7 linked regions of the Homo sapiens genome follow. The protein of the gene in region 1 interacts with the protein of each later gene in a biochemical or structural test. Each region holds a gene or a part of one and is shown on either strand. Other genes may lie near its edges. The genes, in order: MAP7D2, APBA3, FRMPD2, PDZRN3, TJP3, HTRA3 and ARHGEF11.

Region 1 (3,500 bases):
CCATTCCCCTCCCCTCAGCCCCTGGCAATCACCCTTCTACTTCCTGTCTCTGTGAATGTGCCTCTTCCAGGTGACTCGTATAAATGGAATGACACAGTATTTGTCCTTTTATGTCTGGCTTATTTTACTTAGCAAGTCTTCAAGGTTCCCCATTTCTTTTTAAATGCCAAGGAACACAGCCAAGAGATGGGGATGGGGGGTGTTTTTTGGAGGGTCTCAGGTTTAAAAGAATCTCTCTTCTCCCAACTGGGCAGATGCAAAAGGTGAGGACAAGCCACTTGGTTAAAACACAGGAGCTCGTCTTATGTCTGCTGGGAAAGGGTCCGTTACAGGTACGCCAGCCTAGGCTGGGCTCCTGGTGAGTGCTGCTTGTTCAGGACAGGGGTAACAGCTTAGCTTGAGATGCCCAGTTTCCCTAGAGGTTTGAACAGGGATGTGGGCATTTGTACAGAGTTCCTCTAGGAAGGATATAAAGTAATGTATACAGAAATTACAAGTCATCACCCTCAATCCTCAGCAGGTTGAACCATGAATTGCTAATATCTGACTTTTTTGATCTATAAAAACAGCAATAAAAATGGCAAATCACCCTGATATTCAAAGACGATTTTTCACCAGAGGCTTAGAGTTACCAAATCAGATCCTGCTAATAAGGGGAAATATGATCAGATCAATATTAAACTTGGTCTTGAAGGAGAAAAGAATCCTCAAGTGGCATGTGGACTTTCATATTGGCCAAGTGGCTTCCCTGTGTCCTCATGCCATTAGGCCTGGAGCAACTCAGAACTCCCAAGACACCTTGTCTTTGTGGATGGTGCTTCGACTCTCTGCAGACTATTCTCCCCTCTGGCCTTGGGCTCAGGCCCCACACTCGGGTTCTCCTAAGGGATGTGGTTTTTCAGAGTGCTTAGCAATCAGGTGGTTTTTTCCAGGTACACTATATAACGCTGATCTTCTATTTTTTCCTAGACTTTTACCAAATAAAAGCCATGCAGAGAATCCCCCTGCCCCGCCATACATATACGCCCGCAGAGCAGGCTTCCTCAACCTGGCATCACTGACATTTGGGGCTGGATAGTGCTTTGTTGTGGGGTTGTCCTGGGCACTGTGGGATGTTTAGCAGCATCCCTGGCCTCCATTCACTAGATGCCAGCAGCAGTCCGCTCCCCACGCAGGTTATGACAACCAAAAATGCCTTCAGACATTGCTAAACGTCCCCTTAGGGACAAGATCTCCCTCAACTGAGAATCCCTGAGACATGGGGTAGGGCGGGGAGGGAGAGAGGGAGAGAGAAAGAGAGGGAGAGAGGGAGAGAGAAAGAGAGGGAGAGAGGGAGAGAGAAGGCGGGGGGAGAGAGAGAGAGAGAGAGAGAGAGAGAGAGAGACAGAGACAGACAGAGACAGAGACAGATGCACACACACTCTGTCTGTACCCAGTAGGTAAGAGTGGAGCTGTTCTGCTTGGAGGGGTAGTGTCCAATCCCCATGGTGACCTTGAGGCTCCTGAGAGCCTTGGCTTGAGAGGTAATGTGTGAGTGCCTCTACGATTCAGCACGTTGAGTCCTCATGTGTTCTGACACAGTCAGACCAGGTCCTTACCCTGGCCATTTGGAGCTCAGACCTCCATTCACACTCTCTGCAGTTGTGTCCATGTTTACTGAGTGCTGTCTACACACCAGCCACTAGGCTGCTAAATGTCTACAGACACATATTTGTGTACATATGTGTGTAAATGGTATGACACAGGTACTATTATCATGGCCTCTTTACAGATGAGAAAACTAGGCTTAGAGAGGTGAAATGGCTTCCCACAGTGAACTAAGCCACAGAGCCTTCTTACAGCTCTGCTCTACTTCCTGTGTTGCCAGCGCAGCTAAGTCTGAGTTTGGGGTCACCAAGACCCCAAGATGTTCTTTATAGAACTGGCATAGAGTAGGCACTCAATAGCTGTTAGGTATTGGTGTTGATCAATTAGATGATAAACTAAAAATCCAAATAATCCTCACAGACAAGAATGAACCAAAACCAGGAAGATGAACTGTAATAACAGGGGAGCCCATGTCCTGCTTGCTCACACTGACAGTGCTCCATTGAGCATGGTTTTCCAATGAGTTACACAATGTGTACTAACTGTACACATTAGCTGAGCCTGCATTTAGTCTCAGTTAATATGTATAAAGATACAGCTGGTGGTCTTTTGCTTGGCCACGTCTTCCTTTCACGCTGTTATCTAAGGTGAGTGGCGCCCACAGTAGAGCTGTATACCCGCCACCCAACCACCACGAGGGTGTCTCAAAAGACTTGGTCTAGTGCCTTGCCAAGATCAAAGCACATTATCTCTCCACTGGATTGTCACGTGAATGATATGTGTCCTTTGATCCAACAACAGTACAAGGGCAGGGAGTGGATTTGAAACTTGGCGATAGAGGCTGTAGGAAAGACTATCTCGTGGTAGATGATAACAGATGGAAACACTTTCTCATCCCATAAGCATTCCTACCTTGACCTGTTGAGGAGGACTTTCTGGCATTGGAAGGCCTGGCAAATCTCACCTGATCTTCTTGCTTGCCCTCACCCTCCTCCCCGTGGAATGAGGTACGATTTCTCTGATTGGTGAGAATGAGCAAAGCTGCTGGGTGTGCACAACCCTGCCTGTTCTTGTTCTCTCCCTGGAACTGGCCTGCGAGCCCACACTCTGGGCTTCTCTAAGCAGTATAGAAAGAGTTGGGCTCTGCTTCGGGGGTCCCTGAAGTGTGCTGGCACTTCTGCCCATGAATGGGTAGGCAGACAAGAAGCCTTCCTGCAGACATGACTCCGACCACAAGGGTCTCCAGGGCTGGACTGGGGGGAGTGGGTGGGAGGCCTGAACTGGCTGCAGCCTCAGCAGCCATAGCCAGCATCTGAGTTCCAGCACAACCTCTGTGTCTGCTTAAATGGCTCACACACTCAGTCAGTGTGGCAGGAGCCTGTTGGCTATGTCAGACCCATCTAAGTAAATGGAAATGCAGGACAAGATCCTAATCCTAGGGAGAAAAGGCCAGGGTGGCCTAGGTGGGGGAGGTTCTGACAGCCTCAAGTTGGCATAGCCCTGAACAGCCTTGCTTGTTTTAAGAGAATGGTCACATGTAGGTTCAGTTCACGCCACAGACTGCGAGGTTCCATTCTAAATAAAACTGGACCAATTACCCATGAGCACACATTTAAAAATAACTTCTACCTGAGAAGTAAGGGTGGATTCTTTGGGATAAAGCTCATTAAGAAGTCTGTTTACAGTCCCCGACCCCAGCCCCTGCCCAATAAACAGAGTAAGTTAGAAAACACACACACTTGTATGCACACACAAACATGACCTTCAAATTAGAAAAGTGTGGGCAAGTCATAGATTTTTTTTTTTTTTACAGTGAGTGAACAAAATACAGAATTAAAAAAAAGAAGTTCCCAATGTTATCTACAATCTGTCAAGTTTCCTGCTCATCCTGCTTTGCCACTTGCTTACATGGA
Region 2 (3,500 bases), on another chromosome or scaffold:
TGATAGAGAACAGACTCGGGCCCGGTGGGCATGGGGTCGAAGCTGTCTGACCCGAGCCATATCGCTTCCTTATGGCCAAAAGCCAAGCCGACAGCCGGGCTCTCCAGGCAGGCTGCAAACATCTGTAAGAGGCTGCACGGACTGTGGCCTCATTCCTCTGACGGGGGCAGGTCCCTCCCTATCTCTGGGCCTCAGTTTCCCCATCTGAGCAACAAAGGTTGAGACTCAAAAACATGGCCAGGTGCAGTGGCTCACACCTGTAATCCCAGCACTGTGGGAGGCCGAGGCAGGTGGATCACTTGAGGCCAGGAGCTCAAGACCAGCCTGGCCAACCAACATAGTGAGACTCCATCTCTACAAAAAATAAAACAATAAACTGGGCGTGGTGGTGCACACCTGTGGTCCCAGCTACTCGGGAGGCTGAGGAAGGAGATTTGCTTGAGCCCAGAAGGTCAAGGCTGCAATGAGCCAGGTGCACCGCTGCACTCCAGCCTGGGCAAGAGTGAGACCTTGTCTCAAACAAACAAACCCCCCCAGAAATTAGCTGTTTCTTGTTAGAGAGAGAGAGTGGCCCAGCCCTGGAGCTGGGCCACCCGCATTTCCATCCTGGCTCTGGTACTAGGGAGGTGCCCTGGACAAGTGGCCTCCCTTCTCCAGGCCTCAGTTTCCCCAAGGGCACACCAGTGGGCAGGACTTAAAAGTTCGACTTTGTCCCTCCTGGCTGGGCTGGAGAGACCTGGCCAGGGAGGAGACCTCTCTGGGACTCAGCTCCCCTTCCTGGGAGTGTGGGGGCCCTGCCACACCAGGAAACTCACGCGGACAGCGGCCTGGCACGCAGCCAGGGGCAGCCCCACCAGGCTGGTCCCGTTGATGGCGGTCAGGCGGTCCCCGATGCTGAGGGCCCCCGAGCGCTCAGCAGGCCCCCCGTGCAGCAGGTTGGCGATGACGGCTGTGGGCAGCAGGGAGCCCCAGCCCGACTCCACCAGGGCCACGCCCAGGCCCTCCCCTCGCCGCTTCTCGAGGTGCACCTGGGACACACAGGGGGCGCGGAGGCTGCTCAGCAGGGCCCGGTGCAGGTGCACGGGTGTGGGGGGCACCAGGTGGGGGCTGCCCAGCACCTCACTCACCTCCCGGCAGTTGTCACTGTTGGAGAAGTGGTCCAGGTCCCCATTATGGAGGTGGCAGGCGCCTGGGCTCGGGTGCACGCCCACCTGGCTGGGGTCAATACCGCTTTCCCGTAGGAACTGGCTGTAGGCGGCGGCGAAGGCCTGGCCAATGGCCTGGGCGATGAGCTGGGCCTGCGGGGAGGAGTGGCGCGTCCCTGGGGTGTCCCACCCACCTCCTCCAGGTCCCCAAAGTCCCCAGGGTCCTCAGAGCTGAGCCCTCCTGTCCCCACCTGGGGTGAGAGTCCCAGGACACAGCCTTCTGCCCTGGGGCTTTGGGGGAGGTGGAGAGACAGCCGCATCTTGGGGAATCTACGGGGAGAAGGAAGGGGAGGGGCAGCCCTGGGCTGGGGGGACGATGAGGGAGGCAGCTCCCTGCGCATGGGCTGTGGGAAAAGCTATCAAAGACCCAGCCAGGGGGCCTGGGGCCTCATGGGTGGCAGGGACAGCCCAGGAGCGGGCAAGGTTTCGGGGAGTCGGCCGAGAGTCTTGGAGTCTTATAGGAGGCTGGACGCGGTGGCTCACGCCTGTAATTGCAGCACTTTGGGAGGCTGAGGTGGGTGGATCGCTTGAGCCCAGGAGTTTGAGACCGTGTTCACCTGGGCAACAGAGCGAGACCGTGTCTCTATAAAAAATACAAAAATTAGCCAGGCATGGTGATACCCCGGTGGTCCCAGCTACTAGAGAGGCTGAAGTGGGAGGATCGCTTGAGCCTGGAAGGTTGAGGCTGCAGTGAACTATGATTGCGCCACTGCACTCCAGCCTGGGTGACAGAAGGAGACCTTGTCCCAAAAAAAGAATTTAAAAATAAGCTTATGGGAGGGAGGTTAAATGCACGGCCCACTGAGGGAGGCGACAGTTGCAGTGAGGAGGGCCTCAGGAGGGTGGCCCCGCGCCCTGGCTGCTCACGTCCTCCGCGTAGAATACGTGGCAGAGCATCTTGTAGAGGCGGCGGCCGTGGTCCTGGGGTGCCGGCCTCCGTGCCAGCCGCCGCCGCGCCATCAGCACCAGCACGCAGCCGATGTCGGCTGTGTAGGAGATGGTATGCAGGGCGTGGTCCATCATGGCCTCCTGGGGCGGGAGAGGCAGCCTGGGTGGGTTGGGGGGCCGTGCCAGGCTCGATCACCCCACCCGCATCCCTGGGGCGGGTCCCTGCCCCGTACCTGGGAGTCCGCTGTCAAGACCTTGATCCTCTTGGTGGAGACGAACAGGTCCACCTCCGTCATGGGCTGGGTCTCCCCATCGGGGGCCTGTGGGTGGCGGCGTGGGAGGTGGAGGCCCCCACAGACCCAGCCTGCAGCCCACCCGCCTGCCCGCCCGGCCCCGGCCGCCCCCTCACCTTGACGCGGTCCATGGCCTCCCGGGCCTGGGCCATGCGCGTGCTGGTGGGCGGGTTCCGTTCCGACACCAGCTGGGTGGACCCCAGGTACCTGGCCCCAAATATGACACCGTCCAGGAGGTCTTCATGGTCACAGGGACCAGGCACTGAGGGCGACAGCGAAGAGGGTCGGCCCCCAGGGGCCCACTCCCACAGGCTCTGCCCCAGGGCTACGCTCTCCGAGATGGCCGGGAGACACAGTGTTCTAGCTGGTGGCTTAGCACTCTCCAGCCAGGAAGCACAGCCCACTGTTCTAGAACCATCCAAGCAGCCTGGCCCTCACAGGTCTAGAACCTTCTGTCCATCCCTCAAGGACTCGCAGGTGGGAAACCAGTGAGTCCAGGCCATGGCTGGATTCAAAGCCAGATCTAGCACCCACAGATACCTTCACCCCGTGTCCCCAGAATTCCATGATCAGGCCGGAACCAGACAGTCCCACTCCTGCTTTTTTGAGACACGGTCTCGCTCTGTCGCCCAGGCTGGAGCTCGGTGGTGTGATCTCAGCTCACTGCAACCTCCGCTTCCTGGGTTCAAACGATTCTCCTGCCTCAGTCTCATGAGTAGCTGGGATTACAGGCGCCCACCACCACGCCTGGCTAGTTTTTGTATTTTTAGTAGAGACGGGGTTTCGCCACGTTGGCCAGGCTGGTCTCAAACTCCCGACCTCAAGTGATCCACCCGCCTTGGCCTCCTAAAGTACTGGGATGACAGGCGTGAGCCACGACGCTCCACCCCCCACTCCAATTTCGAAACCTCCACAACATTCTAGAACCACAGTGGACCCCTGCTTCTTGGTTCTGGAATTCCCTCCATCAATCTAGAACTGGCCAGCTCTGCCCACTGTTCTAGAACCGTCTGCAGTCAGCCCAGGATAGCAGGCAGCTCTGTTCCCGGGTTGTAGAACCACTCAGAACAGAGACAGACCCTGCTGCCTGTCTAAAATTCCCATACTCTCCAGA
Region 3 (3,500 bases), on another chromosome or scaffold:
TTCTATACAAAATATAGAAATCCTGGAGCCGACCCTATCAACAAGGACTTTGGGTGGCAATAAAAAGGTCCTCCCTGCCATGCAAGGAGAGTTGACAGAAAAAAAAAGACTGGTTGTATCCAGCCGTGTCTAACAAAATTAGAGTAGGTTACTCCCTTTCAGCAAGACAAGCATGGTAACGCCCATTCTGCCCCTGAAATTGCAAAGCTTATTAATTTGTGCCACTACACTGCTTCTTTGCAAGCCAACACCATGAGGAAAGCAATATAGAAGACCTACGTGGACTTCAAGGTCTAGTACCTCACAGTAATCATGTACTCCTGAAAACAGGGGAGCCTCTTAAGCTCCCAAGAGTGGGTTAAAACATACCTTTTGACTGAGAAATAATTAATTCTATGTTGTCAGGGGAATTCTGGATCATCCTAACAGCCATGTTGAATGTGAAGCCCTCCAGACTGATGTGATTCAGGGCTAGTATCTGCCCTCCTAGAAAAATAAAACATCTCAATAATCCTTCAAGGAAATAAAAAAGAGTGGTTTCTTAAAACAGCATCTCTAGTAATTTAAAAAGATGTACCTGGTTTGATCGTTTTTGCTTTTTCTGCTGGTCCTCCAGGTATAATAGAAGATATAAAAATGCCAGGGTCAGCTTGGCCTGAATACTCTCCCTCATTAATGACAAACCCTGTAATCCAAGATGATAGTCCATGATAAGATGATACTTAGTGATTTTGCTGTTCAGAGAGGTTAGGTTATTTCCCTCATATCACACAGCTACCAAGTGGCATTAGCTGATAGTTACAGTCAGGTCTTCTGATCCTCAAATAGAGGATCTTTTCTACTTTACCATGATACTTGGAGAAAGGTGGATTGTTCCCCATTAGTAAGCACAGCTAAAGCTAGGAATACAAACCACCAATATGCACTGGATTTTGCTCCAGTAGATAATGAGACATAGGAAAGAAATGATTTTTAATCAAGTACCTTGTCTCCGTACCTTGTTTCTTCTACAGTTTTTCGGGTCTTAGAAAGTGGTCACTAGTAAGAGGTGAGATAAATTGACTCTTCTTCCCCATAGCTGACTAGAGGAATGTTGTTACATGGTATTAGGGGAAAAAATCTTTTTCTGCATTGTACTTAGATGCACCCCAAAAAGAAAAACTTGGAAACAAAAGTCCCATTGCTCTTTAGGAACAATTAAAGGGAGAAAAAAAACAGAAGTGATTACCAGAAAAGGCAGACTGGGAGAGGAGGGATAGGAAAGGGGAGTAGGCAAGTTGAAAGGGAAAACAGTACCCACCTCCCCACTTTGCCCAGCAGTAGAGACTGGGCCTCACCTACAGGGAGCCCTCTTACCAAAACCACGATGTGGGTCACGTTTCAGTGTCACACGTACAATTTCTCGGCCCGGTTCAGCTATAAAGCTCTTCCTCCTATTATTCTTTGAGCCTAGAGGTAGAATCAGAGCACCACATTGTGCTTTTCCCCCAAATTATTTGGGAGCTAATACAAAAGGAGTAAACAGCATTTCACACACATGCGCGCACACACATTCACACGCACACAATCCTGAAAACAAAAGTAGCTCATATTTAATCTCCCAGCAGTGCTGGGAATGGACACCTGAACACACACTCACATGAGCCTCTCTGGAGTGTCACTCAGTGTTGCTCAAGTTCCAGCTTAAAGAGCAGAGGCAAGAACAGGATGGGCTATGGTGCTTGTTTTCTGTATGACTTACTGTAGCTATTTTTTTCCGCATTGGTTTTGGGACAAGACAGAGGATGAGCAGAGATGTATTAATAATTGCTGAGAGTCAAAACAAAAACAAAAGCTAAAACAGAGGTGAGACAGTAAAGCCTTCCCATCCCAGGCCTCAAATAACCAGGGGTGACAAGGTGCCAGCAGCCCAGCCTGTGTGACCTGTGGTCTTCCCCTGGCTTGGATCATGGAGGAGCCCCAGGCAGAGCCCTGAAGCTGTTCCTGGAGAGCTGGAGTCCTGGAGTGGGGCACTTCAGTGTGTGCCACAGTGTACTTGGGAAAATCCCCAAATGGTGACCCACCACTTCAGTCCTTCCATGTCTCTCCCTCCCCCAGGGACCTTGGCAGAAATTGGCAGACAAGTTACTTGTAAAGAGTTGCCTGGCAGTTTTCCTGATTGATATGGTTTGGCTGTGTCCCCACCCAAATCTCAACTTGAATTGTATCTCCCAGAATTCCTGCATGCTGTGGGAGGGACCCAGGGGGAAGTAACTGAATCACGGGGGCTGGTCTTTCCCATGCTATTCTCGTGATAGTGAATAAGTCTCACGAGATCTGATGGGTTTATCCGGGGTTTCCGCTTTTGTTTCTTCCTCATTTTTCTCTTGCTGCCATCATGTAAGAAGTGCCTTTCACCTCCCACCGTGATTCTGAGGCCTCCCCAGCCATGTGGAACTGTAAGTCCAATTAAACCTCTTTTTCTTCCCAGTCTTGGGTATGTCTTTATCAGCAGCGTGAAAACGCACTAATACACTGATCCAACCCTCAGGCTTAATGCTCACTGAGTAGAGATATTTTTCCAAGTGTCGGATCTCTTTGTCCTCACATTCAACAGGGAACTGGCCAGGAGGATGCATGGCTGAAGGGACTGCCATCTACTCTGTGTATGTTTTCTGGTGAATACTGGGAGGTGATGTTCTGGCCTGCATAAAGAAGCATATCTACAGTGAATGGTGCCTTTTTCTGAACACACCCTCCATAGCAGGTATTCTTCCTTCTGGACAAGAGTGCTGGGATTGTCTTCGCCAGAGCTGACACATTTCAGATCCTCATACCCAGCCAAAGCTAAACGCCTCTTCCCAATCACAAGTAGTTTAAAAAGAAAACAATTCAAAAAACAAGAAGGTTACAAACATTGTGTGGGAAGCAAAAATAAGTGGTGGTAAAAGACTCAAAGCAAGCTTCCTGCGTAGGGGTTCCTCCACCCAAGACCTGGTCGTGGCCTGGCCCATACCTGCATGCATGCTCTGAACAGGTGGTCCAGAGAGAGAGTCCCAGGTCATTGGCTTCTGGATCACACAGGCACTCTTCAGCTGCTCCCGGCCAGTGCAGGGGCTGCCGGGAAAAGAAAATGAGGTTAGATAAGGTGGCCCACGGGGAAGGACAGTGAGGTTAGATAAGGTGGCTCAGGGAGGCAACTTCTTGGCATTTCTGAGTATGGATGATGGCCCGGGGAGGGCAGCCTTGTGTCCAGTCATCCAGCAGCTCCTCAGAGGGACCCCATCGAGGGCTGATCTAGTTATTAGGAGGACACTGGGAAAAATGGCTGTAGGATCTTTATGTCTCAGAGGGGACACTGAGGTAACTCTGGCTTCATATGAGCCTCCTACTATGTGCAAGATACGTGATCCTGTAAACCTCCATTTTTTCAACCATAAAATAAGAATAACATTCCTACTTCCCAGGCTTCTAAGGGAACTGAAATGAGATAGTAAGTGTCAAACACCAGCACTCTTAGT
Region 4 (3,500 bases), on another chromosome or scaffold:
ACACAGCTAAAAAGTGGTATGGCTCAGTTTCAAACTGAGGCGAAGCGGATCCTCTTGCACATTACATGCTCTGTGTGCAATATTGTCTCCCACTGAGAAAACTCAAAACACACAGGAATTCAGAAGTCCAACATTTCAGGCTATGGAATATTCCACTAGATGAACTTGAAGAGTCTCAATGGACCACAAAAGATTTATGAACAAGCTTGAGTTCCCTAAGAGGTGATGTCAATATATCAAATGAAAAGAGATCTGTGTTTACTCTGATTTAACCACTTTGCATTTCTTGGCTGGAGAGAAAGAGGGAGATAGGGGATAGGATTTTGGCTTTCGTTTGTTTTGCAAAATACCACATTGCACATAAGTAATAACTCTTAAGGAGTACTAGAAAGTTCAAGCAAAAATCAGAGAGGAAGAAGCAAGAACAAACACCAGCAGTGAGATTAAACTGAGACAGTGGTGAGGGGTGGGGAAGGATGCAAAAAGCACATAAAGCAGGCCAGGCATGGCAGCTCACACCTGCAATCCCAGCACTTTGGGAGGCCGAGGCTGGTGGATCGCCTGAGCTCAGGAATTCAAGACCAGCCTGAACAACATGGTGAAACCCCATCTCTAGCAATACAAAAATTTAGCCGAGCATTTATGGTCCCAGCTACTTGGGAGGCTGAGGTGGGAGGATGGCTTGAGCCTGGGAGGCAGAGGTTGCAGTGAGCCAAGATTGTGCCGTTGCACTCCAACCTGGGTGACAGAGTGAGACCCCCGTCTCAAAAAAAAAAAAAAAGCTAGATTTCTCTCTTAAAAGGCATCTCTTTATTCTTAGTTTGTTTGGCTCCTCTCCTAAGAGAGTTAGTTACAGCTATTTATCAAGGTGAACTAATATGACTTGGAATTTATTTTGTTTTGCTGCCTTGAGTAAGAGAGAAATGAAAGGGGATTGTTTTCATAGCAAGGGTACCTAACGATAAAGTACACTTCCCAAAGGCTTAAGTGAGAGGTTTGATACAACAGACTAGCTGCTGTTTCTTTAGGGTTATGAGGACTAACAAATGAATGATATGATTTTGCTAAGAGTATTGCATACTGATCATGCAATGAAAAGCCTTATGTCAGAGCTATGGCTGGGCTATTTCACAACCCAACCAAGCATCTAACACAGGAATTCCTTGGGAAACACAGACATCATTTGTACTGTATTCTTCTAGTAACTAACAACGTGTGTGCATTGTTGCTCATCTTGGCTTTTTAGCATGTACTCAATGACCTGCCAGATTTTCCAGGCAACAGTGCAGAATACATTCAGGTTTCATGATGCTATTTCTGCTAATCAGGGCAAATTTTGAAAAACACTATGGCAAACACATGCACATGGAATTAAATTTTCCTCTGGGGACCATGCAGGCAGTTCTTGCAAAAAGACCACATAAATTGAAAATACTAATGCAAGCTACAAAATCAGGTCTGGCTTGTACTTAAAGCACCTTTTGTAAAAAAGAAAAAGAAAATAACTTAGACATGCTCTTTGATAAGCACAGGGAAGAACTGTATTCCAGTGGGGTTGGAATGTCATTTTGCACCTGGTGAGTGTGGAAACTGAACACCATCTTCACTGGCTTTAACACAGTAGGTTTCCCAACAATCACTTGGCCACAGGCCTCTCCATTTTGAGCAATTTCCAACAGTAGGCTTTGGTGTGGTTTAGACCTGGGGCAGGGAATAGGTCTTCTTGGTTTGGGTTCTTTTGTTTGCTATAGCTTGTGAAACACCTAATTGTGAAGTGAATCTTAATTTATTAAAGTTGTTTCTCAAAACTGGTAACAAAGGGTGGAGGAATAATTATGAATGTAAACAAGGAACAGCCAACTCATCTGTGCTAAATGGCAAAACATGTTCTTGATGGTAAGTTGTAGAACATGGGCTCATGTTCTGAACCACGGGCTCAAGTCTGACCCTGCTGCTTCCTGGAGCCAAATGTCTAGATATTTGAGTGCAGTTTGCTCCCTCAGTCCCTCCGAAGGCTGGAGAGTACGGAGGACCCCTGGCAGCAAGGACTAAATCAGAACAGCACATGATGACATGCAGCCTGGGATCTCAGACAACTGGTAAAAGGAAAAAATAAAAATATACCAACCTCACGCGGTTCTATAGTTTTTTAAGAATTCCACAGAGCGAATGCAAGAAATACAACCATGTGATGACATCCCTGGGGCTCAATAAAGTGGGAATTATCCCTGTCCCCATCTACCTTCATATTTACAATTTAGTCTCACCATTTAAAATGTTCTTTTTTATATGTATGTTTGATAAGACAGATAATGTTCATCATTTTAACAACTGCAAACACATAATTAAGTTGTTGTTTCTTATAATAAGCCATTGTTTGTTTCTTTTTGAAACTGTGGAATGGGCTAAAAGCAAAGGGAATTTAATCATAAATCTCTTTGTGTCATTCCCTTCAACTGAAGCCATGTGTTGGCCACTCCCGCCCTAGGTAATTTAAATCCCAGACTCAAGACTTAGGCCCTTTGGGGTCAAGCCCTTGTTTTCTTCACCAGGCCTCTTTCTGGCCACTTCCCTGCCCATCCCTCAACTCTTTCCACACTCTGCTTACTTGCAGCTCCCCCAGTTCCCAACTCTGTTCCTGCTCCAGGCCTTGTATGAGCGCCAATCCCCACCCCTGCAAAACCCCAGCGTCCAACCGCTTTCTTCTAGCTCAGGGGTCTTCACAGGTGAATGCGTGTAACACAATGCATTGGAATGGCAGGAGAACATACTTCACATTTTCTTCATAGTCATATTTTAATTTCATTATTTAAAATACTCCCTTTTGTACGTAACTTTTTATAAGGCACATAATGTATTCGTTTGGTACTGTGTACACATTATATATACAAATAAAATATGGTCCTCTGATCTAGCAAATTCCTGTTCAACCTTCTGAACTCAGCTCCAACGGCCCCTCCCCAGGACACCTCCTCCCGCAGGGTTAACTCATCCCAGGGCATCATTAGCTGTGGGCAGGCACAGAGTACATCAATGAGAGCAGTGCTATGCTCTCCCAACTCATCAGTCTCTCCATCTGGAGGTGAGCTCCATGAGGGCAGGGCACACACTATTCCTATCTGGATGGCTGGCATCTTCTCGTCCTTTAGGTTTCTGTTTACTACTATCTCCTCTTGTCTTTCCTGATAACCCAAGCTAATGATACCCTTTGCTTCTTGGCTGGTATCTGCCATGTGCCATCCTCCCATTTTTTTTTCCTTCATCATACTTCTTCCAATCCAATCTCTAATTATTGTATTCACTTGTTTCTTGTCTGACATCCCCACCAGGACTCAATGACCACAGGGCCTCAGTCTTTCTGGCCTCCATTGTATCTCCTGGCCCTTAGCAAACAGCCTATGTTCAATACTTATTTGTTGAATGAAAGATTTTTGTTTTCTTTTCCTTTAACTACTTTCCTTTTAAGCTAATAAACAAGGAGATGGTCAGGAAAAGAAAAG
Region 5 (3,500 bases), on another chromosome or scaffold:
TGGCCAGGAACAGTGGCTCACGCTTGTAGTCCCAGCACTTTGGAAGGCCGAGGCGGGAGGATCTCTTGAGGCCAGGAGAGACCAGCCTGAGTAACAGAGTGAGACTTCCATCTCTACACACACACAGACACACACACACACACACACACACACACACACACACACACACACTTTTTTTTTTTTTTTTTTTTTGAGTTGGAGTCTCGCCCTGTTGCCCAGGCGCAATCTCAGCTCACTGCAAGCTCTGCTTCCCGGGTTCACGCCATTCTCCTGCCTCAGCCTCCCGAGTAGCTGGGACTACAGGCACATGCCCGGCTGATTTTTGTACTTTTAGTAGAGATGGGGTTTCACCGTGTTAGCCAGGATGGTCTCAAACTCCTGACCTTGTGATCCGCCCCCCTCGGCCTCCCTAAGTGCTGGGATTATAGGCGTGAGCCATCGTGCCCGGCCTTTTTTTTTTTTTTTAATTAGCCAGTCTTGGTGGCACTTGCCTGTACTCCCAGCTACTTGGGAAGCTGAGCTGGGAGGATTGCTTGAGCCCAGGCGGTGGAGGCTGCAGTAAGTCATGGTCACACCACTGTACTCTCATTCCTGGGCAACACAGTGAGACCCCCATCTCCACATCCACAAAAATTTTTAAAAATATCTTAGGCAGGGTGCAGTGGCTCATGCCTGTCATCCCAGCACTCTGGGAGGCCAAGGCAGGAGGATCACTTGAGTCAGGAGTTGGAGGCCAGCCTGGCCCACAGGGCAAAACCCATCTCTACAAAAATACGAAAAATTAGCCAAGGATGGTGGCAGGCGCCTGTAATCCCAGCTACTCAGGAGGCTGAGGCAAGAGAATCACTTGACCCTGGGAGGCGGCGGTTGCAGTGAGCTGAGATCACGCCACTGCACTCCAGCCTGGGTGACAGGGCAGACAGCACAACACTATGTTTCAAAAAAAAATAAAATTATATATATATATATATATATATAAGCTATGGCTGGGCACAGTGGCTCACGCCTGTAATCCCACTTTGGATGGCCAAGGCGGCCGAATCACTTGAGGTCAGGAGTTTGAGACCAGCCTGGCCAACATGGTGAAACTCTGTCTGTACTAAAAATATAACAGTCATGGGCCAGGCGTGGTGGCTCGTGCCTGTAATCCCAGCACTTTGGGAGGTCGAGGCGGGCGGATCACCTGAGGTTGGGAGTTCGAGACCAGCCTGACCAACATGGAGAAACCTCGTCTCTACTAAAAATACAAAATTAGCTGGGTGTGGTGGCACATGCCTGTAATCCCAGCTACTAGAGAGGCTGAGGCAAGAGAATTGCTTGAGCCCGGGAGGCGGAGGTTGCAGTGAGCCGAAATCGGGCCATTGCACTCCAGCCTGGGCAACAAGAGCGAAACTCCGTCTCAAAAAAAAAAAAAAAAGTCACCTGGGCGTGTTGGCACCCGCCTGTAATCCCAGGTACTCGGGAGGCTGAGGCAGGAGAATCACTTGAACCTGGGAGGCAGAGGGTGCAGTGAGCCGAGATCGTGCCACTGTCTCCAACCTGGGCGACAGACTGAGACTCTGTTTCAAAAAAAAAAAAAAAATATATATATATATATATATATGTATGAGCTGGGTGTGGTAGCAGGCACCTCTAGGCGCTGAAGTGGGAGGATCATTTGAGCCCAGGAGGTCGAGGCTGCAGTGATCCATGATCTTGCCCTTGCACTCCAGCCTGGGTGACAGAGCTAGACGCTGTCTCAAAAATAAATAAAGAAATAAGTGGGTTAAAGTCCTAGCAGTGAATGGGGCTCCCGGGCCATGTTTACTGGCATATGCTTGGCTGCAGCCCCAGTTACACACAACACTCGTGCGCCCACTTTGCAGCTGAGAAAACTGAGGCCAGATGGTGAGCTGGCCTGAGGGATTTGGCTGCAGCTCTGTTTGCCCCTGCACCTCGAACTCCAAGCCAGTGCCTCTCACCAGAGGGGGACCCTTGGCAACGTCTTGAGACATTTTGGTGTTCAATACCAGGCCGAGCGCGGTGACTCACACCTGTAATTCCAGCACTTTGAGAGGCTGAGATGGGCGGATCACTTGAGGTCAATAGTTCGAGAGCAGCCTGGCCAACAGGGTGAAACCCCGTCTCTACTCAAAATACAGAAATTAGCTGGGCGTAGTGACAGGCACCTGTAATCCCTGCTACTCGGGAGGCTGAGGCAGGAGAATCACTTGAACCCGGGAGGCAGAGGTCGCAGTGATCTGAGATGGCGCCACTGCACTCCAGCCTGGGCAATGGAGCAAGACTCCATCTCAAAAATAAAACAAGTCGGGCGTGGTGGCTCACGCCTGTAATCCCAGCACTTCGGGAGGCTGAGGTGGGTGGATCACGTGAGGTCAGGAGTTCGAGACCAGCCTGGCCAACATGGGGAAACCCCATCTCTACTAAAAATACAAAAATTAGCCGAGTGTGGTGGTGGGTGCCTGTAATCCCAGCTACTCGGGAGGCCGAGGCAGGAGAGTTGCTTGAACCCAGGAGGCAGAGGCTGTAGTGAGCCGAGATTGCGCCATTGCACTCCAGCCTGGATGACAAGAGCGAGACTCCAACTCAAAAAAATAAAATAAAATGAAACAATAAAAAAATAAACCTGGAAGGTTCTCCTGGCATGAGTGAGTGGAGGCCAGGGATACTGCTAAGCACCCTGCATTGCCCAGAATGGCCCCATCCCAGAGAAGGATCTGGCCCCAAATGTCAATGGGCAACGCAGAGAAATCCCACTGTCAACCCCTCTAAGAGAGGAAGCTGGATAACTGCACCAGGACACATTGTCTTCCTCCAACCACCCACCGTCTGCTCTCATATCCATGCCCTGCTCAAGAACACTCGATGGCTCCCTAGTACCATCCTCCAAACCTGGGTTCAAATCCAAGGCTTTGGAGATGGGCATAGCCTTAAGCCCCTTATTCCCACCACCCCTGACCTTCGGATCACCTTAATGAATTAAAAACCTGCTTTTGGCCGGGCGCGGTGGCTCACACCTGTAATCCCAGCACTTTGGGAGGCCGAGGCGGGCGGATCACGAGGTCAGGAGATCGAGACCATCCTGGATAACACGGTGAAACCCCATCTCTACTAAAAATACAAAAATATAGCTGGGTGTGGTGGCGGGCGCCTGTAGTCCCAGCTACTCGGGAGGCTGAGGCAGGAGAATGGCGTGAACCCGGGAGGCGGAGGTTGCAGTGAGCCGAGATTGCGCCACTGCGCTCCAGCCTGGGCGACAGAGCGAGACTCCATCTCAAAAAAAAAAAAAACCAACCAACCAAACAAACAAACAAAAAACCTGGTTTTCTACTGTTGCCTCACGAAGTAAAAATAATAATAGCAAAAAGAAAAGGAAAAAAAGAGAAAATCTGCTTTTCAGCAATCTACTTCATTTGTGCCTTAATTCTTCTGTGCATTCAGTCACTCAGTCAACAAAACTGTTGCAAGCCAAGTATATGACGTGTGATTGGGAACCAGCG
Region 6 (3,423 bases), on another chromosome or scaffold:
AAATTGCTCTCTGCCTCAGTTTCCCCATCGCTGGATGGGTGGCAGGGAGGGTGAAATAGATGTGAGAAAGGGTTCTTCATGTGACCAGACGTGCACAGTGGGGCTTAGTGGGAGCTCCCCGTAAGCCGGGTGGCTTCCCAAGTGCTGCATCTGTCACCTTGCATCCCAGGGCATCCAGGAGGTCAGCACAGCAGAGCCAGCCTTCCTGCTGGACAGAGGCAGAGGCCAAGGTAGGGAGGGGAACATCTCTTGCCCAAGACCACGAAGCCGGAAGTAAGCGGAGGAGCCAGGACTTGAGCCGGGCTGCCTGACTCGGAGCTGGCCCTCCACAGCGCCACATGACCCCGAGACCTGGTGTGCCCCAGTGCTCAGCTGTCATAGAAACCCTTTAAAGGCCCGTGTCTTTGCAGGTATGCCCAGTCATGTGTTAGATGGGTCCCCAGGAAGAACCCTGGCCAGTGGTGGGTAGGCTGCCCCAGTGCCCTGCTGGCTGAGAACCGTGTGCTTGTAAACTTTATTTTCCATACAGTAGAGAAACATACAGTACAAGCAACACTGGGAATCCATTTACAGCAAAGCTCACAAATGCCCCTTGAGACACACTCGTTCCCTGGATGAGGGGGTGGTGCCCAGCAGCCTGCATGCCTCTGGGCGGCACTTCCATGCGAGCGGCTGCTGCATCCCAGAGCTGCGTGGGAAGGGGAAGCCGGCTCAGTCCTCACACCCCGCAGCTCCACGTCCACTGTCCTCTGCAGGCTGCCCCATGGCCGCCTTGGGGAGGAGAAGCTTCCCCAGGCAGCAGCCAACTTTCCACGTGCTCCCCGCGGCCTCCTGCCTGCCTGGGGAGGAAAACCTCATGGCAGGGCGGGGCTCAGCTCCGCAGCCAGGGGGCATTCACTCAGTGCCTGCTCTGGGCTGGACCCCACCCCCGCACCCCAAAGGGATCAGATGTGACCTGTCCTCCAGGGACCCCAGGCTGGCAGGCAGCAGCCCTGGCCCTACAGCTTGGTAAGTCCTAGGGCAGAGGGAAGCTGGGGCCTCAGGTCAGGTGGGCGTTTGTCAGGGGGGAAGAAGCTTGGCAGCCCAGACCTGCAGTAGGAGGGGCAGGAGCAGGGGATACTGCAGATGGGTGTTCACAGGGGCAGAGGCGGGAAGCTAGGAGAGGAGGGGACCTCCATGGAAGGCAGTTTTGTGAATATCCGGAGAACTTGGAAGTGACTTTCAGGATCATCTGTACAAGGGGATGTTGGGCTTCCCTCCCCGGCACCGGGATGTGGATCCAACACTCCCCAGGCGGAAATTCGGGCCCCTGGCCAAGCCCAGCCTCCGCTCTGCCCCGGACAGCCAGGAGGAGGCTGCCGCCCTGCTGAGGACCGACGGTGGTCCTTCGTCCTGATCTCGGGGGGGCGCTGCCCTCCGTTGTCTGCAGGCTCTGACGCTTGGCGCTGGAGGAATGCGCCCCTCACATGACCACCTCAGGTGCGATGCTGAAGAGGAGGTCGTCGTTCCCCCGCCGCACCTCCAGTAGGAGAGGAGACTCGGTCAGCACGGCCTCCTGCAGCTCACTCGAGTCCACTAGAGGACGCCCGTTGACCTTGACGATGATGTCACCATCTTGGATGCCGCCTCTGCCAACAGGAGAGACGGGGTCACCACCCACCGCCTCCCCAGGCACAGCCTTCCCAGGCCCGGCCCAGAGCGAGGCACAGTCAGGGTCAATGACAACATTTCAACAAAAGTCATCTCGATGGGAAAGAACAGTGCCCCAGCCCCAAAGCTCTCACACCAGAAGAAAACCAATGTCACACGACAGGGAAACAACCTTTCAAACTGCTTCTCCCATGCGTCAGAAGGGTGGGTTCAAGCTCCCGCTGCAGCCCTCCTAGCTGGGCCAGGCACTCTGTCCCCTTGTGCCTCAGTTTTCATGTCTACCATCCTATGTGGAAACGCACTTTGCAAATTATAAAGGCCCAGGAGTAGGTTCTGCTGTTACTGCAGTTACGAAGACGTCTATGTGGGAGGCAGAGCTCACGGGGCCAGCCTTCTCTCTGCATGAGGCTCACTGAGACCTCCCCACTGCTGGGAAGGAAGGTGATGGTACTGTGCTCAGCTGCGTGGGCACCAGCATCAGGACCCTCACATGCCAGCTGTGTGACCTGGAAGAGTAACTTCTCTAAACCTCAGTCCCTCCACCTGTAAAATGGGTGAGGGCAGGAGCCTGCACCTCCCTGGCTGCAGTGAGGATTAACTGAGATGTGTGTGGAAAATTTCACCCAATTTCAACAATTTTTACTGCAGGCCTGCTGCGGGCAGGACAAGTGTGCCATCTGTGCTCATCACAGAAGTTCACGCGGGGCCTCCCACCTTCAAGCCCAGCCTCTGAGGATGCACAGTACAGTCGGCCCTTGAACAACATGGGTCTGAACTGTGTGGGTCCACTTATATGTGGATTTTTCCCACTGCAGATGAAGACCGAGGCTAAGGAGGGGAGGCAACTGGTTCAGAGCCCTTCTTGGGAGTGGGTCAGCCATGCCAGCATGTGGTAGTGTCGCTGCACGCCTGCCTCAGCCTATGGTGTTGCAATGCTTAACATTTCTCTAGTACTGGAAGACTTCAAAGAAAGCAATCCTTTATCCATTTCATCTACAAAGTCTCCTGGGGGTAGAAATCCCAGCACTTTGGGAGGCCAAGGCAGGTGGATCGCCTGAGGTCAGCAGTTCAAGACTAGCCTGGCCAACGTGGTGAAACCCCTTCTCTACTAAAAATACAAAAACAATTAGCAGGGCATGGTGGTGGGCACTTGTAATCTGAGCTACTCAGAAGGCTGAGGCAGGAGAGTCGCTTGAGCCCAGGAGGCAGAGGTTGCAGTGAGCTGAGATCGCGACACTGCACTCCAGGCTGGGCAACAAGAGGGAGACTGTCTCAAAAAAAAAAAAAAAAAAAAAAAAAAAAAAACAATAGGCTGAATTATCTCCACTTTACAATGAGGAAGCTGAGTCCCAGAAAGACCCAGGACCCAGGCTGGTCCCCAGCTAGTGAAAGAGTCTGGCTTGGAGTGGGTTCTTAGCCCAACAGGGACTCTTCAGCCTCTGCTTCTCGAAGGAAATGACATTGTGGGACTTAGGACGTACACAGTCAGGGCTCTAGGGACCATTCAGCTCTCCAGCCTCCTCTGGCTTAGCAGACACGCTAGAATCCACCTGCCCCTTCCCGGTCACTTTGCTGGGAAGCTCAAGGTCACATGAGGTCAGTGGGGCAGCCCCAGCCCAGACCTCACGCCTGCCCCATGCCTCGAGCGATCTCCTCTGGCAGAGCCTACCTCTGAGAAGGTGAATTCGGCGCAACCTCTTGCACATAAATTCCACTGCTGACCTCTGGGAAGTCCGGGTTGCTGGCCTTCAGCTCATCCACCAGGCTGGAAAG
Region 7 (3,500 bases), on another chromosome or scaffold:
TCAACTCTCAGCAACCCTCTATCCTTGCCGCCACCCCTGAGATGTCCATGGGTGCAGCCGTTGTAGCCCTGCCCACCTGGTGGAGAGGCTGGAGGTAGAGGACGAGGCTGACTGGTGCAGGCGAGTAGCCTCCGCAGCAGCATCCATGTCAACATCACTGCGAGAGCGGGGCACGTTCTCTGCCTTTCGAGACCGTTTCATCTCTTCCCGGCCCTTGAGGCTTTCAGAGCGGCCCAGGCGAATCTCTGAGCGTGAACTGGGGGGAAGGGACAAAAGACTTTGGGACTTGGGAAGTCAGTGGGCCATGCTTACATCCTGGCTAACTCTTACCTGTGGCTCCATCTCAAAGATGCCTCCGTGCCACAGGTTCTCCTCCTGAACATGGCCAAAGCAGCTGGATGGCAGTGGAAGCTTCTCAATGACAGACTATTTTTGCTGCTCTACAAACTCCTCCTCTCTCCCCAGCCTAGCCTGATGGATGGACAGTCATCTTCCTCTGGAGCTATTAGGAAGGGATCCTAACAGGAAGATGAAATCTGGGGCTAACAGACTCTGAGTTGTAGTGTGTCCAGAGGCCTGAGACACCATGCTTCTGTCAAGAAGGTGGTAGACATCATCGTCCCTCAACAGGGAACACAAGGTCCCAGCTCCCTGCCCCTAGTGGCCAGTTCACGTTGCCTCTGCTTTGGAACGGGTCAGCTCCCACCTTTAACTCTGCCTGAGGCGAACCTCTTTTAAGAGGTCTTAAGAGGAAAGTGGAGTCACTATATTCACAGCTCATTTTAGGATTTTCCACACTGCCTGTCAGAAAGTTCTATCTGCTGCTGGATTCTTAGCCTTCCAGTTGTGATGTGGATGAGTTCCATTCTTATCTTAACAATACTGTTCCTAAGATTCCATTTCCTCTCAAGAGCAGACAGGCTTGTGCTTAAAGGGGCCTTTTTACTGATAGGCAGGACCCGCTCCTTGGCCTGCCGTGCTTGGCTACTGAGTGTCTCTGGGGTTTGATGAGATGCTGATGACTGGGTGTTGCGGTGTCGAGTCCTGCAGTGCATCAGCCCAAGACAGCTGGCACCTCTGACCCCTAGCTGCCCCAGGATGGTCACCCCACCTCCATGCTGTGGCCCTGTTGGGCTGGTTTTCTGATATTATTAGTAATCTACATCCTGCTCTGCTTCTAGGACCACAGGAGGCCTGGAAATGTCTGCAGAGCTCTTAATAGCACAGCAGGTTGCTGCAATGAGGAGCTAAATGTCTCGGTCTCCATTCATTGTGCCCAAACTGCCAGATGATCCAAAATGGAGCTCATCTCCTAGGGTCCTGAGGGTTTTGTCTGCAGGGTTAGAAAACATACTGCCCACTGATCCCTTATTGAATTCACCCTCCAGAATTGTGTTAGAACAATCCCAACCCAGACTAACTCGGAACACTTTTCAGTGTCCTAATGGGTCACTGTACCACCACAACAAACACCCAGTGGAGTTACTGGGGCTGCAGAGCTAAGCACCTTCCTTCAAGCACCCAGAAGTAAGTAATGCTCCTCACCAAGAAGTGAGGCATATCATCTGTCTTTGCCCCCAAATTCCTAGGGTATTGCCTTCTAGAACTGGGGCATCTTATACCTGTTGAGTATCTACAACAATCTCTGACCCACCATATTGCTAATACTATTTCTTCTGAGATTGCCAATGAGTTGATAATCATCAAACCCAAAGGCTTCTGCTTAGAGTAGCTTTAGGATCCTAGCAAGTGTCTTAGGGCAAATTTACCTAGCAATGCCAAGAATGCAACTTTGTAAATGGTCTCAAATATTTTCTCAAAATGTTGATGTCTTATAATCTTAAAATATTTGATATATCTACGACATCATGTGCTTCCACAGGAATCACATAATTTGCGTATTTAACTTACCCATTAATGTTAGAACTCAACCTTCCCCCAGTACAAATCTAACCTTTGTCTCCTGTAAATCTGTCAATTCTCATGGCAGCAAAATCTTTTAACACGTGTTAAGCTGAAAAAAGGCTTCATATAAACAGAAAGGAGTAACCTGCATTCAAGCAGGAAAGGTTGGCTTATGGTTTGATAATTAGTTATTTCAAAGGCAAAATAGGCCAGGTGCAGTGGCTCATGCCTATAATCCTAGCACTTTGGGAGGCTGAGGCAGGAAGATTGCTGTGGTTGGGAGTTCGAGACCAAGCTGGGCAACATAGTGAGACTGTCTCAAAAAAATAAAAATAAAAATCAATTAGCCAGGTGCAGTGGTGCATGCCTGTATCCCTAGTTACTCAGGAGGCTGAGGTGGGAGGATCCCTTGAACCCAGGAGTTTGAGGCTGCAGTGAGCTATGATTGCACCACTGCAATCCAGCCTGGGTGACAGAGAAAGATCCTGTCTCTTTAAAAAAGAAAAAAAAATCCCCAAAACAAACAAACAAACAAACGAAGGCAAAATGGCTTGAATATCCACGCTGCTGCATACTGACTTGCTTTCATGCCTGCCTATACTCCAGCTCAGTGGCTCTGAGGCTTGACTGTACACAAGCATTATTTCCCCCCACACAAGACCATATTACTCTACCTGTTTAAGTCACCTTTAAGGGTGGTGTTGGTTTTTAAGTGTTGGCTATAGAATTTTAGACATGACTTGACTGCTGTCATGCCACAATCAAGAGCAAGTAAGTCCAAGAACAAGTTTTCATACCAGATGGGGACTCTAGTTAGAACCTGACCAAAGAAGAATATGAGAGATGCCAGTCTCAATTCCCCTTTTTCTTCTTGAAAAGGGAAAAACAGTCCATTTGTAATCAATCCACTTTGCCTCTCTTTGCTGAGGTGGACATCTGATGCCTATAGTTACATCATTTGTCTTTAAAGTACCCAGCAGAACCTCATCTCTGGCTCTCTTCTTCACATACAGACAGGAAACCACTTTCTTTTGCCTGCCTGGGTCTTTTTTCCCCAGGACTCCCTCTTGCCCCCACTATAGTCTTCCTTATCCTTGTCACTTAGGGTTTCCTGATTAGCTGCTTTTTATCACCTAGCTCGATCTTGGATGAAGGCTACTGAGTAGTCAGGTGATAAATCCAAAGGGAATTTGAAAAGTGTGTAGTTCTTGGGCTGGAAGTCGGGGATCTGCTTGCTCTTCCACTGGCCTGTTCACTGGCACACAATGTGTCTCCTGAAGATACTGGGGGTGGGGAGGAAGTTCTGTAAAGGGAGCCTTAGAAGCTAGTGGAGAGGGGTCAAGTAGCTGGAATTAAACCCTAGCATCAGCCCTGCCCATGACCCACTCTTCGAGCAGCTGGCGAGTCCCATCCAGCCAGTGCTACCTGTCACTCTCCAGCAGGTCCTCAGGAAAGCTTCCGGTCGAGAGTCGTTGTGTCCCAGGTTCTGGGGCATCATACTGCTGGTTGTTCTCAAAGTGCTGAATGATGTTCCTCACATTGCCTGGTTTGACTAGAAGCAAAAAGAAAATGAAGGACACTAGGCTTGCTGTTCA

The links.
Region 2: the proteins of MAP7D2 (region 1) and APBA3 interact in a test that uses a peptide from one of them, tested with the Homo sapiens proteins (one large-scale study listed by IntAct).
Region 3: the proteins of MAP7D2 (region 1) and FRMPD2 interact in a test that uses a peptide from one of them, tested with the Homo sapiens proteins (one large-scale study listed by IntAct).
Region 4: the proteins of MAP7D2 (region 1) and PDZRN3 interact in a test that uses a peptide from one of them, tested with the Homo sapiens proteins (one large-scale study listed by IntAct).
Region 5: the proteins of MAP7D2 (region 1) and TJP3 interact in a test that uses a peptide from one of them, tested with the Homo sapiens proteins (one large-scale study listed by IntAct).
Region 6: the proteins of MAP7D2 (region 1) and HTRA3 interact in a test that uses a peptide from one of them, tested with the Homo sapiens proteins (one large-scale study listed by IntAct).
Region 7: the proteins of MAP7D2 (region 1) and ARHGEF11 interact in a test that uses a peptide from one of them, tested with the Homo sapiens proteins (one large-scale study listed by IntAct).

What each region holds. Positions count from the first base shown.
Region 1 is NC_000023.11:20,026,408-20,029,907, forward strand, and holds part of MAP7D2 (MAP7 domain-containing protein 2), read right to left. Parts: intron 1-3,500. UniProt on the Homo sapiens protein: Microtubule-stabilizing protein that plays a role in the control of cell motility and neurite outgrowth via direct binding to the microtubule. Acts as a critical cofactor for kinesin transport.
Region 2 is NC_000019.10:3,751,693-3,755,192, forward strand, and holds part of APBA3 (amyloid-beta A4 precursor protein-binding family A member 3), read right to left. Parts: intron 2,649-3,500; coding exon 2,503-2,648; intron 2,414-2,502; coding exon 2,327-2,413; intron 2,235-2,326; coding exon 2,073-2,234; intron 1,299-2,072; coding exon 1,128-1,298; intron 1,029-1,127; coding exon 816-1,028; intron 1-815. UniProt on the Homo sapiens protein: May modulate processing of the amyloid-beta precursor protein (APP) and hence formation of APP-beta. May enhance the activity of HIF1A in macrophages by inhibiting the activity of HIF1AN.
Region 3 is NC_000010.11:48,184,197-48,187,696, forward strand, and holds part of FRMPD2 (FERM and PDZ domain-containing protein 2), read right to left. Parts: intron 3,097-3,500; coding exon 2,996-3,096; intron 1,450-2,995; coding exon 1,357-1,449; intron 686-1,356; coding exon 578-685; intron 487-577; coding exon 370-486; intron 1-369.
Region 4 is NC_000003.12:73,604,442-73,607,941, forward strand, and holds part of PDZRN3 (E3 ubiquitin-protein ligase PDZRN3), read right to left. Parts: intron 1-3,500. UniProt on the Homo sapiens protein: E3 ubiquitin-protein ligase. Plays an important role in regulating the surface level of MUSK on myotubes. Mediates the ubiquitination of MUSK, promoting its endocytosis and lysosomal degradation. Might contribute to terminal myogenic differentiation.
Region 5 is NC_000019.10:3,714,884-3,718,383, reverse strand, and holds part of TJP3 (tight junction protein ZO-3), read right to left. Parts: intron 1-3,500. UniProt on the Homo sapiens protein: TJP1, TJP2, and TJP3 are closely related scaffolding proteins that link tight junction (TJ) transmembrane proteins such as claudins, junctional adhesion molecules, and occludin to the actin cytoskeleton.
Region 6 is NC_000004.12:8,304,176-8,307,598, reverse strand, and holds the end of HTRA3 (serine protease HTRA3 isoform 1 precursor), read right to left. Parts: intron 3,416-3,423; coding exon 3,320-3,415; intron 1,629-3,319; coding exon 1,463-1,628; 3' UTR 501-1,462; downstream 1-500. UniProt on the Homo sapiens protein: Serine protease that cleaves beta-casein/CSN2 as well as several extracellular matrix (ECM) proteoglycans such as decorin/DCN, biglycan/BGN and fibronectin/FN1.
Region 7 is NC_000001.11:156,948,243-156,951,742, forward strand, and holds part of ARHGEF11 (rho guanine nucleotide exchange factor 11), read right to left. Parts: intron 3,458-3,500; coding exon 3,331-3,457; intron 1,776-3,330; exon of another isoform or gene 384-1,775; coding exon of another isoform or gene 331-383; intron 278-330; coding exon of another isoform or gene 257-277; coding exon 77-256; intron 1-76. UniProt on the Homo sapiens protein: May play a role in the regulation of RhoA GTPase by guanine nucleotide-binding alpha-12 (GNA12) and alpha-13 (GNA13). Acts as guanine nucleotide exchange factor (GEF) for RhoA GTPase and may act as GTPase-activating protein (GAP) for GNA12 and GNA13.